Regions from separate parts of the Homo sapiens genome. Here region 1 is linked to region 2. The links come from fine-mapping of genetic effects on gene expression. A gene starts in region 2. The other region holds a variant in brackets. All regions are shown on one strand. Distances are from middle to middle. Region 1 overlaps CYFIP2 (cytoplasmic FMR1 interacting protein 2). Region 2 holds the start of CYFIP2 (cytoplasmic FMR1 interacting protein 2).

What was found. PIP is the estimated chance that this variant, and not a neighbour inherited with it, causes the effect. A credible set is the group of variants that fine-mapping cannot tell apart.
Region 1: its variant is the best candidate, but not a certain one, in a credible set for the expression of CYFIP2 in unexposed skin (GTEx, PIP 0.53).

Annotation. Positions count from the first base shown.
Region 1 is chr5:157,375,122-157,378,129 of GRCh38, reverse strand. The region is part of intron 26 of CYFIP2 (cytoplasmic FMR1 interacting protein 2); the gene reads right to left. All of the region lies in intron 1 of NIPAL4-DT (NIPAL4 divergent transcript), which reads left to right. Among named protein-coding and RNA genes, the nearest start is that of FNDC9, 31 kb to the right of the region's middle. The variant T/C (reference allele first, on the strand shown) is at 1,639.
Region 2 is chr5:157,264,712-157,267,445 of GRCh38, reverse strand. CYFIP2 (cytoplasmic FMR1 interacting protein 2) reads right to left here and starts at 1,323. Exons shown (of 31, transcript NM_001037333.3): 1 at 1,251-1,323. RefSeq lists an enhancer at 107-216 and a silencer at 897-1,416.

The DNA of each region.
Region 1 (3,008 bases), 110 kb before region 2:
CTTCTTCCCTGACCCTCTTACCCCCACCCAAAGTTTTCTACCCAGTCTTATCCATCCCATAAAGCCCCATTTAAGTTTTACCTTCTAGGAGTCTTCCAAGCCCCTCCAGCCCACAGTGCCTTTGCTTTTTAAAAACTTACCAGAGCTTTTATTCATTCAGGGCTTCCACTAAGCCATCTGCACATTGGGCTGTCTTATCTAGCCCAGGGTCCTGAAATCTGAGCTGCTGATGGAGGACCAGGGCAGTGACCCACATCTCATGTAAACATTGATTGAGAATCTTCTTGAGGGACAACCCATGTGCAGGACCTGCACGTTCTCTATATTTTTCTCATTGGCATGATATGAGAGGCCAGCAAGAATACAGAGAACATGTGTATAATAGGATCTAGATACCCAACAAGGTTGTACCAAATTCTGAAGACTTTCATTCTGACTTGAATAGAGCCTGAGCCAGAGATTGTCATTCTTTCATTTATATAGCAAATAATAGGCACAAGGCTTTCTGCAAGGTGCTGGAGTAGGTGAGGGAGACCAGATGCACAACCCTTACCAAGATGATGACAAAATAAGTCAAAACTAGAATGGGCAATTCTAGTAAGTGCTACAATTGGGGTATGCCTGGGGTCTATGGGGATGCAAAGAGGAGCAACCAATTCAGACTTTTGGGGAGGATGATAGGGAAGACTTTCTGAAGAAGGACGCTAAGTTGAACCAGGGGTGAGTGTTGGACAGCTAAGGGGGAACAGTACCTGCAAAGGCCCCAAAGCAAGAGGCCACAGTAGGGCAGGGCTGAGAGCCAAGGTAGACTGAAGCTTTCAGTGCTAGAGGAAAGTGATGTGAGACAGGAAGGAGGGGTGGGCAGGAGTGGTTTGGGAAGAATCTTCTAAGCCTCTCTTAGATTTCTAGACATTATCCTGATGGTTTTCATCAGGGAAATGGCCAAGCTGCAGTTTCACCTTCTGGTTGCAAGGGAGAAAGGATTGGGGAGAGCAAAGGGGGTGTTGGAAGAGTCCAAGCAGGAGAAAGCAGGGCCAGGAGTAGCGGCAAAGGAGATAGAAGGAAGTGAGCAGAGGCCAGAGACCTGATGACTGGACCTGAGGGCGGGAGTAAAAGGACCCCTGCCCAGGGCACCTGTATGACGTTGGTACCGTTTATGGAGTCAGAGAACAGCAAGGCTGCAGGCAGGAGGAAGCCAAGGTCAGATTCAGGCAAGGTAAATTTCTGATGTGTGTGGACACGGAAGAGAAGATGTCTAAAAGGCAACTAGATGTGAGGCCTAGGCCCTGCAGAGTCTGCAGAGTAGATCTGAGCTTGGAAGTCAGCATGGGATGGAGGCTGACCCCAGGGGAAAGGAACTGTGCAAGTGCAAGGTTTGCATAAGTGGGTGCTTCTCAGGGTGACCAAGACCCTTCCGGAGACTTCAGTTCCTCTGACTATATGAGACCCAAGAGAAAAACAGCACAAAGTGCTCCTTGAGTTCAAGGGAATACATAAATTCTGAACATTTCCATGTCTACTAGCATACAACCTAAACAGGGATAAAAAGACACCTTTCAAGTCAGAAATAGGGAAGATGCCACTTCTCTGCATTTGCTGCTACCTCTTTATTCCTTTCTTTAGGTCACCAAATATCTA[T/C]TGAGTGCTTGCTCTGTGATCTGGCAGACAACTCAAAGGCACAGAGATGAAGATGAAACACACCATGGAGCCAGGGAAGGGCCTGGATGCTGTGGGAAACACTACAACAGGTAGAGCTCTGTAAAAATGAGATTTCAATGAAGTTTACCATCTAGTGGAGAAGAGATCCAAGGACACCCGTGACTGAGAAATAAAACAGAATCAATTGGGTGCAATAGGAGAAGTTGCTGACAAAGGGCTTTGGAGACTGAGAAGAGAGAGAAACACCACCAAGTTCCTTGCAGAGAAAGGCATTTGATAAAATGTGTGTTGAATAAAAGGACCAGCGGTTTGTGGAGGATGAGGAAATGATGGCTGTGAGATGGGCCTGAGAGGAGGGGCAGGGTTTTGAACTGGGAGGAAAGGTGCCATCCCATTCAGGAGGAGGATGAAATCAGGGATAAAATGAGGTGGCTGATATGAAAGGAGTGGGGCATCCTTGGCTTGGGCTTGTGAGGAGTGTGGGCCACAGTGCTATGGGCAGTCAGGAGCCAGGCTTTCAGTTCTAACGGGGCTTAGAGAAAAGGCCGATTCAAGTCTCTTTGCTGATGGCAAGAGGAGGAAAGGGGGCTCTTGGTAACCGAGGACCTGCTTCTTAAGCGCTGGAGACTTCGCATTCATTACCTCACTTAACACTAAGAACTCTGTGAGGTAGCTCCTCAGTCCCAGCACTTTTCAGGCGTGGAAACTAAGGCTTAGAGAAGGAGTGTACCATCTTTTGGCTTCCCTGGGCCATACTGGAAGAAAAATTGTCGTGGGCCACAGATAAAAATAAAATACACTAACAACAGCTGATGAGCTAAAAAAAAAAAAAATCGCAAAAAAAAATCAACGTTTTAAGAAAATTTATGAATTTGGGTCGGGCTGCATTCAAAGCCGTCCTGGGCCATGGGTTGGATAAGCTAGGCTTAGAGAATATAACAGAGTCTCATAGCTATCCAGTATAGAGGCAAGACTTGAACCCAAGATTTCTGAATCCAAAGATACATGGTTTCCAGTGGAGACCATGGAAATCAACCTGAAATCAGGCTGAGAGAGCCTCATGCAACTCACCCTGCCCTTCCCCTTGGCCTCATTCTGTGTAAGAGTCTCCAGACTTAATGACACCAGTTCTTTGATAGGCATGGTGTCTTCCTTTGGACACAGGCAGAGTATAATAGAGCAATACTTCTTATTAAATGAAGAAATGGGTGATAAACCAGAGCTATGGCCTCTCAGGATTGCCTTGCTGCCAAAGGCCTGGTCTCATCTCTGAGTGGCCATTGGGCCTACCAGGCAATCATCTTCTTTAATATCAACCTCACTGTGTTCTACTTCATAAGTCTTATAGC
Region 2 (2,734 bases):
TTTGCCCTCTAAGATCTCAGGGACCCAGGTTGCTGGCACAGCCTGTATCCAAGAGTAAGGTGAGACCCACTGCCCTAACTGGGACACAGACAGGAGGCAGGAAATGGGAACACAGGAACCGACAGTCTCCTGATTTGCCCCTCCTGCCAGCAGGCCTGCCTCCGTCTCCCTGCCCATGCTGAGGGCACAGGCACCCAGGAACTAGCAGAAAAAGATCCTTGTCCCATTCTTGGCCTAGCTGGAAGGACAGCTGATGGCTCATCAGCCCTGGTGAGTGTTTCCACTGTGCTGGGGAAAGTAGGCAAGCAAAGGTCAAAATCAGATTCCCTGTGCTGGGGAGGCACCTGGGCTGTCAGTGTCCTTTCCAGCCGGGTTCTGGATATAGAGGGCCATACTTATGTGGAACATGCTACCTGCCCCCATCCCCAAGCAGAGAGCACCTCCTCCTCTTCTTTTGCACATAGGTGGGCTGTTCTTTGGGGTGAGGGGTAGGGCTGACCTGAAAAGTAGACGCCACAACAGACAGGCAAGCATCTTCCTGGTTCTTCAGAGCTCAAGAAAAAAACCACCTTTTCCCCCAGGAGTCAGCCCACTCATCCCCTTCCCCCACTTCCACCGTGCCCGCAGCCAGCTTGGTGAGCGATGCTAGTGTAGGCCAGAAAGCTTCCAAGCGGGTCAGACCTGCTCCTCTCTCATCAAAGCCCTCCGCCCCCAAACATCGACGCTGCGCCCCTCGCCCCACCCATCACACGTTCTGTGTGCCCGAGGCGGCTGCCAGGCGGGCCCAGGCGGCTCTCGCTGGCCCTGGGGGAGGTGACGGTGGTCACGGCGGCAGAGGCAGGGGCCAGCGCTCTGCAGTACCTGGACTCGAGGATGTCGCCGCTGCCGGGCTCGCGGCCGCTGCAGGTGTCTCCGGTCCCTGAGATTAGCACCGCCTCCTCCCGGGCTGGCGGCTCCGGCCCAGGCCGCGCACCTGCTGCTGCGGCTCCCCCGCCGCCGCGCCGGAGCTCCGCGATGTGCCCGCGCCTCCCGGGCAGAGGGTCCGTGCCGCGGGACGCACGGTGGGTCCGAGGGGGAAAGGGGCCGCGTGGGGCCTGAGGCCGGGCCTCGGGCTAGCCCGGGCACAGCGCCGAGCGCCCCCCGCGGGCCGGGAGAGGGGGCGGCCCTTCGCGCATCCTCACGGCCTCATCCCCGTCCCCGGCGGCATCCTAGTCCCCGTGCCCGGCCCGAGGCCTGCGAGGGCCGCTTACCTGGCTCTGCGGCGGGTCCAGGGGAGGGGCCTGAGGCTACCGCAGGGCCCCGCGCCGGGGCGCAGGATGCTCTGCCCCGCTCCGCTGCGCCGCGCTCGGCCCCGCCCCGGCCCCGCTGCTCCGCCCGCCGCGGCTCCGCCCCCACCCAGCGCCCGCCCCTTCGCCGCAGCGGCTGTCACACAAAGGGCAGGAAATGGCTGCGGCGAGGGTCTCTCCACGCTCTCCGCTGTACCGCCGGCGCACCCAGGACCTGCCTCTCGGTTTCGGAGGACCGCTCAGCCCCCAGGCTTCCTGCCCTGGGGGCGGGAAAGGGAGGGAAGGCTTCTTCCACGGCCTCCATCACCGGGAACCACACCTGCAGCAACCCGAGGACGAGAGCTTCGGCCGCGTTCGGATCTTATTGGCCCCACATGATTTCCAAGTGCTCTTTTATCAACCCAGTCTTTATTGATTACCTATCCTGTTCCAAGTACCGTGCCAGGACTTGGGTGTGCACTGGTGTACAAAAGACAGGGTCCTGCCCCCTTGGAGTTTTATCACCTGCCAGGAGAAACAGGTGTAAATTAACCTAGCAAACGTCCAGTTACAGCCCAAAGTGCTCTGAGGAGAAGGAGCAGGGTGAAGTGACAGAAGATGCAACTGGGGCTAGGGGAAGGGGCCTTCCACCAATTGAGCTTGGTCGCTGATAGGGCTCCTTCGCTTAAGAATAAGTTCTTCCGCTCCCTTCCAGTTCCCTGGAGAAGAGTCCCTGAAGCTGCCACCTCTTTTACAGGGGCCTGCCTCAACTTCATTCTGGAAGAATTGCCTAACGGACAAATAGGTGGCAGGAAGCACTGAGAGGACAGGTACCTTTCTCTTCAAGGCTTATCTGCCGTGTCGGGCTCTTTAAAGAAGCAATTATCTGCCCAGCGGTGGCTCACACCTGTAATACCAAAACTTTGGGAGGCCGAGGAGAGAGGATTGCTTGAGCTCAGGAATTGGAGACCATCCTGGGCAACTCAACGAAACTTCATCTCTACTAAAAATTAAAAAAAAAAAAAAATAGATGGGTGTGGTGGCATCCACCTTTTGTCCCAGCTACTCAGGAGGCTGAGGTGGGAGGATTGCTTGAGCCTGGGAGATTGAGGCTACAGTGAGCTATGATCCTGCCGCCGCACTCCAGACTGGGTGACAGAGTGAGACTCTGTCTCAAAAAAAAAAAAAAAAGAATGAAAGAGAGAGACGGGGGGAGAGAGAGAGAGAGAAAGGAAGAAAGAAAAAGAAAGAGAGAGAAAGAAGAGAAGGAAAGAAAGAAGAGAAAGAAAGAGAGAAAAGAAAAAGAGAAAGAAACAATTCTCATTGAAATCCAGCCTGGTAGGCCTTCAGACCAGGCTGAAGTCAGGCTGCACCAAATTCTAACCTTGAGACACCTGAGCAGGTCACTTCACCACTCTGCTCCACAGAGGTCACCGTATCTGCAACACAGGGAATAACAGTTGCCCTTT